Regions from separate parts of the Homo sapiens genome. Here region 1 is linked to region 2. The links come from fine-mapping of genetic effects on gene expression. A gene starts in region 2. The other region holds a variant in brackets. All regions are shown on one strand. Distances are between the middles of the regions.

Region 1 (5,000 bases), 23 kb after region 2:
CAAGGTGGAAGGATTTCTTGGGGCCGGGAATTCAAGACCAGCCTGAGACCTCATCTCTATTCCCTGGAGTCCTCTTCAAAGCAGATTTTGTTGCCAGACGTCCTATGCCTATGTCCATTACCCAGAAAAATTCTTTTAGTTTCACGTGGCTGGGGAGGCCTCACCATCATGGCAGAAGTCAAAGGAGGAGCAAAGGCATGTCTTACATGGTGGCAGGCAAGAGCCACGTGTGGCTTTTGAGCACTTGAAATATGGCTACTTCAAAGGAGGAACTGATTTTCACATTTAACAATTTAAAACTAAATGTAAATAGGCAGGTGTGGCTAGTGGCTGTCATATTGGCCATTGAATATCTTGGCATAAAGGACACTCCATCACTCCTAACCTCAATCTTGATTCCTGCCAGCCATAGGAGGACAGCACCAAGCCTTCAAAAATGAAGAAGAGAAAAGGATCTAGCATAGGACTCTCATGTTCCATATCTGAATAAGGATCCTTGATGGGAAAAGAAAGTGTGTACAATATCCATAATTTTCTTTTTCTGTGAGCATTTTTGTTGCTTTATGCAACCCCTCTCACCATTTGCAGGCAGAAGGGAGAAGAGGAGATAACTGTTCCATGGGTTCTTATAAAACATGCCCAATCTCACTAATGCCCTGCAATCCCAATCATTTTAGGGTCCTATTCTCTCGGGCACCAATTATGGATGAAGGGAGACTACAAATTAGGAATCTCATCCTTTCCCTAAAATTCTTAGCAAGGTTATATAGGTCAACATACTTGTTGACCTATTATGAAACCAATGTTTGTGGCAAATGCTAGATGTTGAGAACTGACTGACGTCTGCTTCCTAGGATGGAAAGAGCAGCATATAGTGGGAAACAGAGAGCCAGTTAAATTTAACATAATGAGATGTAAGAAAGAGTCATGGGAGTCTGAGAGGTGAGATGGAGTCGTAGGGGCCTGAGGAATGACTTCCCTAAGATAAAATATTGAGTCTATGGCTATTAACATAAAATCTTCCTGCACAGCCTATGCTATCATCAGGCACCTACCTTATATTCATAGTAAAAATTCTGTTGTTGTTTTCCAGGGTATACAGGGAGCTACCCTGTGTTTCTGAGACCCTTTGTGACATCTCACATTTTTTCCAAGAAGATGATGAGACAGAGGCAGAGCCATTATTGTTCCGTGCTGTTCCTGAGTGTCAACTATCTGGGGGGGACATTCCCAGGTAAGAAAAGCTATTCCGTTGGAAAACTATTGGACGCTGTGTCTCAATATCACAGAGGAACATGAGAATTAGAGGAATTTGGGTGTTTTTCATCGAACTCAGGGGAGAATGAATGAGCTTATGCAATACTAGCAATGAATCCAGAAATTTTTGAAACAAACCTTAAGCAATGAGGTTTTCTTCCATGGAGGTGTCTAGAGAACCTATACACAAAAAGGCAATGAGCAATGCAATCGAAGACCAGTGGGTTATTGGTTAAGCTGTTACTCAATACATAAAACCAACCTAATTCTCTAGGAAACTGGCTGATGATGAGGCTGAAGGCCACAGTGGGGTCCTGAGGTTTAACACCGGGGAGGGGAGAATGCGTCTATTTGTAGGGTATGCCAATTTCCAAGGGTTGAATATCCCCATCATGGCAGATTTCAAACTACCAACGTGAAGCCCCTGATGAGGGAGTTGAAAGAACACATGCAGAAGTCTGTCATCCTGCTTTCACCACACAGATACAAGAGACATAAATAACCTCAAGGGCATAGACTGCTGAAAAGTGTAGAAAAATGACTGGAAATTGGTATGTTTTAATATGTATTACTTTTGTTTTTAATATGATTTATTTAAATGTTAGCTTGTATCATTTAATTTAGACTAATGGTTGTGTTGAACAACTTGGTTGCAAAAGCCCTGAAAATGGAACCGTCAGCTCTCATGATCTGGGATGCGCTGTCTGCAGTTCAGCGCTGGGTTCCTCCCACTTTCTAAACCCCTCCTCAGCAGGCAGACTCCAGCATGCACATGCACCAGGAAAGAGAATATAAAATGGCATGTTTACTCTTGCTGCTTTGCCTGTAGCTACCCGAATCCATAGCAAAATGTGTAGCCGCAGACAGCAACCAGTCTTAGGATGTCAGCCCAGGGGTCTCTCCATGCTTGGCTTGCCCACAGAATCCTTCCGAGAAAAGCGCTGTAAAGCCTTTCTCTTCATCCCACTTCTCTAGGTACCTGTTCTTTTTAAACCTAATCCACGTGTCAGTTTCTCTGCTGGTCTCTTTCACGTCGAAATAAACAGATATCTCAAGGAATGGATCAAAGGCAGAGAATTTGATGGAGTTGGTTGCCTTGCTCCAGAAGGTATCACCTGTGTTAGGGCAGGTTTCTCTCCAGAGGCATGACGAACCATTGGCTCACGCTGTATGTCATAGAACCCATATTGGCTAATATTGGAATCACCTGTGAGGCTTTGAAAGCGCCGATGCTTTGGTGCCACCTCCAGACTTCTGATTCAATTGATGTGGGCTGTGACCTGGTATTGGGTGGTTTTTAAAGCTTCCCAGGTGTGGTCAAGTTTGGAATTACCTTGGAATATAAATGCATACATTTTACGCATTGGTGAATTACTGCTTCAGTCTTTGATTCCGACATCGTATGATACCAAT[C/G]GGAGCAATCAATTTAAGCCAGAGAATCTGGCTGTGTCCACATTGAACGTGGGCATAATACAAAGAGAAGAAGGAGAGATGTCAAGACACATTTGGCTCAAGGGAGTGTGTTATCTCTATTATTTATAAATGTGGATAAAAATATCTTCATTCAAAATGTCTTCTATTTCTTGATAGTCTAGATCCGCCCAGTCTAAGAGAACTTTCTGTGATGACGGGAGTGTTCCATTCTCTGCTACACAGTGTTATAGCCGTGAGTGATATGTAGCTGTTGAGCACTTGAAATATGGATAGTGCAACTGAGAAACTAAAGTTTACCTAAGTTTAATTCATACAAATTTAAATAGCATATCCGGGTAGCGGCTACTCTACGGGACAGTGCAGCTCTAGTTTTCAATAACATCGTCTTCATCTTCATCAACTGATTCTTGATGTTTTTCATCTTTTTGTAACATGGGGATCCCAACCTCCAGTGTATCAGAAGAGCAGGAATCTTCAGAGGGACAAGATTCAGGTAATGGGCTAATAGGGAGAGGAGTGAAGGGCGTGTGGATTGATGGAAATGTTCTGTGATTTTATGTGAAGAAGACAATTTAGAGTCTTTTGTGCAGATCAGGAGTGCTTTCCCTTACCTTTGCCACAGTGCACTGTGCAGTTTAAATGGGGACATGTAAGCCTGTCACTGCTGGGGCATGGAAATGCTCAGGGGAGTCAGTGGGTGGTCCTGGTGGCTGGGGACAGCAGCAGGGCCTAGGAAGGATGCACGCTCTTTCGCCTCTGCATCTTTGGAGTTCGATACTTTTCTGACCTGGACTTTCCTCACCAGCAGAAAGTGTCTTCTGCTATTTCGGACCAGTAGAAATGTAGGTGCATTGGTTCCAGTCCTCAGCAAATGGTGCCTCCCACCAAAGCTGTCCAGCCTGGCTTCCCAGAAAGTCTTATGGAATTTGGTGTATACGTTTAGTCATGACAAGGAACATTCTTGTGCCTTTCTTTGTCTGGATTCAAAGAAGCGAAACTGCATATTCTGGTCACTCTCAGCTCTCATTCGATATCTGTATCCCAACAGCACCTGTGCAATTCAGCCTCCAGGAGTCCTTCAGGCCATGCCTCTTCCAACCCTTTACCTCTTACATGTCTAGTATTTTCTTTTCAGGAGACATTTGCTCAGAAGAGAATCAAATAGTTTCCTCTTATGCTTCTAAAGTCTGTTTTGAGATCGAAGAAGATTATAAAAATCGTCAGTTTCTGGGGCCTGAAGGAAATGTGGATGTTGAGTTGATTGATAAGAGCACAAACAGATACAGGTAAGAATGGAAGATGCTGATGATTTGAAAACCACTCTGATATAAAGGAAGTGTGTAGGCCAGGCGTGGTGGCTCAGGCCTGTAATCTCGGCACTTTGGGAGGTGGAGGAGGGCGGATCACAAGGTCAGGAGTTCGAGACCAGCCTGGCCAACATGACGAAACCCTGTCTCTACTAAAAATACAAAAATTAGTCAGGCGTGGTGGCACCCGCGTGTAGTCCCAGCTAATCAGGAGGCTGAGAAAGGAGAATCTCTTGAACCCAGGGGGCAGAGGTTGCAGTGAGATGAGATCTCGCCACTGCACTGCAGCCTAGGAGACAGAGCGAGACTTTGTCTCAAAATAAATAAATAAATAAAAATATAAATACAAAAGGAAGCGTATCGGTTCCATCCCTTATGATAGCTAAAATTTCATCAATAATATGTTTATTTCATGCACTGTGAAGTTGGTATTTTAATTTCAACATATATAGAATGCAGAGAAATTGGGGCCCAGAGAGGTTAATGAACTCCCCAGCGTTTTCTAATGTAGTGAAAGTCGCAGATGGGTCCTGAACCTTGCCTCACTTCAAATCCCACCTCCCTCTGCACATCGCTGCTTAAATCCAAGTCCTGGGGTTCTCCCGTCATGACATCACTCTGGCTCCTTTCAGCGTTTGGTTCCCCACTGCTGGCTGGTATCTGTGGTCAGCCACAGGCCTCGGCTTCCTGGTAAGGGATGAGGTCACAGTGACGATTGCGTTTGGTTCCTGGAGTCAGCACCTGGCCCTGGACCTGCAGCACCATGAACAGTGGCTGGTGGGCGGCCCCTTGTTTGATGTCACTGCAGAGCCAGAGGAGGCTGTCGCCGAAATCCACCTCCCCCACTTCATCTCCCTCCAAGGTAATGTGGGGTGAGCGGAGGCTGTGGGGGCCGCTGGGGTGCGTGCCGTCTCACTGCTGTTGTGGTTCTCCTGCAGCAGGTGAGGTGGACGTCTCCTGGTTTCTCGTTGCCCATTTTAAGAATGAAGGGATGGTCCTGGA
Region 2 (5,540 bases):
ACAGTCTTCTTTTTTTCATGAGTCAAAAAGCATCTCTCACTTTAGTTACACCTGTATTAGGAGAGTTATGATCAATTACAGCAGTTGTAGTTTCTGAGAACTTGGATAAATACAAACCTGAATTACACAGAATTTATGTAAATCCAGATATTCAAAAATGAGAAATAATGTAATATATGACCAAAGTAATATCAAGACAACATACAATTAAATCACTCAACAATTACTGGGAATATGTATCAAGGCAAGAATTGTAAAATTCTACCTGGTACTTCTGAAATGAACAAGGCAATGAGAAATAACAGTTTATCTTGTCTATTACTGAGTATCAATGAAAGCAATAAGGTGAACGGAAAAGTCCATGCAAACTCCATTTTCAGAATAACGAGGAGACAGATAGAATTCACAGATCCACATGTTTCTCACTGGCTGACAAAACTGTGTTAAGTCAGGGTGAAGCATAGCGGAGGAACAGGGAGGAAGTGCAGAGTGAGAAAACATAAAGAAGTCAGGAAGTGCCAGAAGAGTAATTTCCTGTGAGTAAAGCCTCATACTCGGTGATTTATCGATAGAGTTTGAATACAAGAGCTGTGAGGTCTGGGCAGTTGGAGTGGAGGCTGAGCAGGAGATAAATGTGGTAGAGGCGGTGTGGTTGGGAGATCCTTGAAAACAGAGAAATGCCCTAGTATGGCAGAGTACAGAAATACTACAAAAACTCACTTGTAGAAAGAACATTCTGCATATAATCAGGCATGGAACGGTCCCATGCATTCCATAATAATTAAGAAAAAGATATTGGCAGAGCATTGCTTAAAGGCACTGCAAGAAAATAGGTGAGAAGACCAGTAAGTTTTATTTATTTATTTTATTATTTTATTATTTGTTTTCGAGATGAAGAACAATCAAAGGAAAATGATGGACGGAAATTAACAATCATTCTTGGGCGGGGGGAAAAACTCCACCCACAATTCCTAAGTAAAAAGGGTTACACACATTCTCGGCATAATAAGTCTCTCTCAGGCCAAATGTGTTCATGTGAACACTATGAAGGCATTCCAGCTGAGGTCAGGAAAATACCAAGTATGACCTTCCCTATTTAAGTTAAAATATTGGAAGCTTATTCCAAAATATTGGAATAAATTTGAAATACAGTGATTGAATGGAAGGACATTAAATTATAACTCATTAGACATGTTATTTTACTCTATAGACAAACACAACAAATCACCTGAAATAAGCTATAAAAGATAAACCAGTAAGTTAGAGAAATAATCTTTTTTTTTTTTTGAGATGGAGTCTCCCTCTGTTGCTTAGGCCAGAGTGCAGTGGCGCAGTCTTGGCTCACTGCAACCTCTGCTTCCTGAGTTCTAGTGAGTCTCCTCCTCAGCCTCCCAAGTAGCTGGGATTACAGGCATGTGCCACCATGCCTGGCTAATTTTTTTTGTATTTTTAGTAGAGATGGGGTTTCACCATGTTGGACATGCTGGTCTTGAACTCCTGACCTCAGGTGATCTGCCTGCCTCAGGTTCCCAAGTGCTGGGATTATAGGCTTGAGCCATTGCGCCTGGCCAGAAGAATCTTAATGTACAAAAATGAATAGGTTTTTAATACAACAGACTATCCCAATTCCTTGAAAGAAGAAAATACACCCATTAAAACAGAAACTATGGTGCCTAGAATTAAACTGCACAAAAAACTACATGACCCATATAATTTTTTTATGTTGAAATAATTTTAAACATGCAAAATTAGCAAAGATTCATATAAATCCTCAACCAGCCTATCCTGATGTTAGCTATATATATAATTGTATTATATGTATAATAGTTGTTATATATAAAACTGTATATATACATTTATTGTATTATAATCATATATATACATTTATTGTATTATATATAATATACAACTGTATATGTAATTGTAATATAATAATTATATACATAATAGTATATGTAATACAAGTATCCAACCAGGAAATTGATGTCAACGTATCTTACCATTACCTAATGTGCAGACCTTATTTGAATTTTGTCAATATTTCTCTTAACGTCCTCTTTCTTCTCCAAGATCGAATCGAGGATCTCACATTGCACTCAGTTGTTATGTCCTTAGATTCCTCCAGGCTGTGACCGTTTCTTATTCTTCCCTTGTCTTTTGTGATTGTGACACTTTTGCTGAGCATGGCCAATTATTTTACAGAATGTTTATCAATTTGGATTTCTTTGATGTTTTCTCACGATTAGGCTGAGGTCATGCATGTTTGTCTTCTGTGTTCAGTCAATATGCCCCATCCTTTTTCAAATATTTCTTCATGTTCTGGCGTCAGAATTTGTTCCAATGTTATCTTATATATTCCTGCCCCAGCCCTCGAAGTAACCATTTCTCCACAGATACTTCAAAATAGTATTTAGAAACCAAGGCCGGGCACAGTGGCTCACGCCTGTAATCCCAGCACTTTGGGAGGCCGAGGCGGGCTGATCTCGAGGTCAAGAGACGGAGACCATCCTGACCAACATGGTGAAACTCCGTCTTTACTAAAAATACAAAAAATTAGCCGAGCGTGGTGGCATGCACCTATAATTCCAGCTACTCGGGAGGCTGAGGCAAGAGAATCGCTTGAACCTGGGAGGCAGAGGTTGCAGTGAGCCGAGATTGCTCCATTACACTCCAGCCTGGGTGACAGACGGAGACTTCATCTCAAAAAAAAAAAAAAGTAATATTGATTAAAAATCAAATTGCATGAGAATGCATAGCAGGATACCAAGCAAATACAACTTTTAAATATTACAGAAAATGATATTTAAAATACAAACCAAATACATAAATCATGCAGGCGGATTAAGACGTTTCTGGATAGTGGTAACAGCTGAGAGTGGCTGGATGAATTCCAGAGAAATTTCATATATTGCTTCAATTTTATTTAAAATATACTATTACCTATGTCTTAGATATTTTATTTTAAATAATGAACAAGGATATTATAAACTCTGCAGAAGTAAGTGTAATCGTGTTTTTTTCCTGCCCACATTAAAGATGGCCCAGATGCTTGCACTGACCCCATTGACTGCCCACAGCCATCATGGCGACCGGAAGTCCTGAGAGCTTACTTCCCTCAGTTCTCAGAAAGCCCACCTCCTCTGCGAGCGTTATTTCAAAAGAAGTTGAGAACCAGAGAAACCGACCTAAGGGGATTCTCCCATTTGGCCCGTCCTACCCTAAAGTCACCACCTGCTGCTTTTCTGGAGCGCTTACCAGGTGAGTTTCAGGAGCCCTAGTGTACAGGAAGGAGAAACGGAGGCTTGTTGGTAGGACACCGCCAGGCTGCTCTGTGTTCTGTTCCTCTTAGTCAGCAAGGAAGGAGTACGACAAAGTGAGAAGTTCATATGAGCGTGTCAGAAGGGGAAATAGGGCCCCTCCCTTGTTAAAAACAAAACCCTCTGGAAGCTCGGCATCCTGTCATAACTTAAATTTATGACTTCAGTGACTTGGCTTGGACAGTCTTAATAATCTCTCTCACACTCAATTTGTTTTAATTTCTGTAATAATAATTTTTATACCAATGTTTATGTTGTTAATACTAATAATTTTACACTGTAACTGTATAACTTTAATTATTAGAAGTGTTAACCTAACTAACAAACATATGAAAGCTTCCTAAGGGAAACAATTTTTTTTTCTTTTTGAGATGGAGTCTCGCTCTGTGGCTAGGCTGGAGTACAGTGGCATGATCTTGGCTCACTGCAACCTCTGCCTCCCAGGTTCAAGCGATTCTCGTGCCTCAGTCTCCCAAGTAGCTGGGACTACAGGCGTGCACCACCACATCCAGCTAATTTTTTATTTTTTAGTAGAGACGGGGTTTCACCATGTTGGCCAGGATGGTCTCCGTCTCTTGACCTCGAGATCAGCCCGCCTTGGCCTCCCAAAGTGTTGGGATTACAGGCGTGAGCCACTGCGCCCAGCCGGAAACAATGTTTATTTGGGAATAGAGCATTGCAATTGGGAATAGACATGCCGTATTAAACTATGTGTATATTCAGGGAGATAAAGGAAGACAGAAATGGGGAGGATTGCATATTGTTTTAACAGAATTTTCCTTGGCTACAAAGATCAGTAACAAGGGTGACATTAGTCCTAGGTTGGACCAGCAGTTGCTGGGCAGCATTCCTTGCAGAAATATATATTTTTTTAAGGTTGTGAAGACCTTTATGTAAGGTTGTGGGTTTTGTAGAGTCTTTTTCATCTTCAGGCATGCAAGGATAAGAGCCCTCTCTTCATGGCCTTCCTGGCTCTATTTGTCAGGGTTATCTTAACATAAGTGACTCCATTTTGTTCTGACAACTTTCAGATTTCCCCTTGTGATCAAGAAGTTTCTCTGAAAGCACTCTCCTGCCTCAGCCTCCCGAGTAGCTGCGACTACAGGTGCCCACCACCACACCCAGCTAATTGTTTTTGTGTTTTTAGTAGAGACGGGGTTTCACTATGTTGGCCAGGCTGGTCTCGAACCCCTGACTTGTGATCTGCCCACTTCGGCCTCCCAAAGTGCTGGGATTACAGGGATGAGCCACCGCACCAGGCCTGCATTTCTTTTTTCAAAGAATTACTGTGGCATTTTTTCCAATGTCATTGTGTTCTGTGGTTCTTATCTAGTCTTCACATTTATTTACATAATGAACTTTCAATGATGGATTTCTACAGAATTTTTGTCACTAAGTGGTTGCCTAGAAGTATATATCCTAAGATTGAACATATTGAAATATGAGCTAACTTTTCTCATTCAATTATTGATTACTTAGTTAGTTTATTTATTATTTGGGGGATGGGATCTTGCAATGCTGCCCAGACCAGACTCAAACTCCTGGGCTCAAACTCCTACCTCAGCCTCCCAAGTAGGTGGGATTACAGGCATGTACTACTTCACCTGGCTCAATTATTTATTATTTATAACTCATTGTACATATATTCAGATAACTTAATCTGTGCATTAAACTCTTCCACTTTGTTGATAGTCATTTCTGTGTTTGCTATGTGGCTACATATGTATGCTATGTGTTTCCTCTATGCTTGAGATAGGATGATGGGGATTCTTCAATGGCTGTGTGAGTTGTTATTCTAGGGCACTTAAGTCAAGAATATGAATTGCTTTGGTCAATTTTTTATATCTTTACTGATACTCTGTTATTCTGTTAATTGCTGAAAGACTATTGAACAGATTTCCCACAAGAGTGGAGGATTATTCTATATCTGTTTATCATTCTACCCGTGTATACTATATACATATTGAAAGTGTGAATATGTATACACAAAATTAAAATTGTTATTCTTATTGAAGTGATCTACTTTATACTTAGTAATGCTGTTTAGGTAAAATATATTTTGTCTAATATTATTGGAGGTGCACCTGCTCCCCATTGATTACATTTTTACACAGATAGTCATCTTGCATTCTTTTATTGGAATCTTAATATAACTTCTTTGGGTTTATCCCCTGTAAGATGGAGGGAAATGCTCTTGAAGCCTAATTTGTCTGACATTCATAT

Evidence for each region.
Region 1: its variant is fine-mapped to the expression of CARD8 in lung (TOPMed, PIP 0.91).

What each region holds. Positions count from the first base shown.
Region 1 is chr19:48,230,637-48,235,636 of GRCh38, reverse strand. It overlaps CARD8 (caspase recruitment domain family member 8), which reads left to right. Exons shown (of 14, transcript NM_001184900.3): 6 at 1,094-1,234; 7 at 3,144-3,184; 8 at 3,827-3,977; 9 at 4,631-4,860; 10 at 4,937-5,000. Among named protein-coding and RNA genes, the nearest start is that of CARD8-AS1, 23 kb to the left of the region's middle. The variant C/G (reference allele first, on the strand shown) is at 2,671.
Region 2 is chr19:48,253,510-48,259,049 of GRCh38, reverse strand. It overlaps CARD8 (caspase recruitment domain family member 8), which reads left to right and starts at 3,138. Exons shown (of 14, transcript NM_001184900.3): 1 at 3,138-3,258. CARD8-AS1 (CARD8 antisense RNA 1) reads right to left here and starts at 3,375. Exons shown (of 2, transcript NR_040599.1): 1 at 3,256-3,375; 2 at 856-2,699. RefSeq lists an enhancer at 3,030-3,269.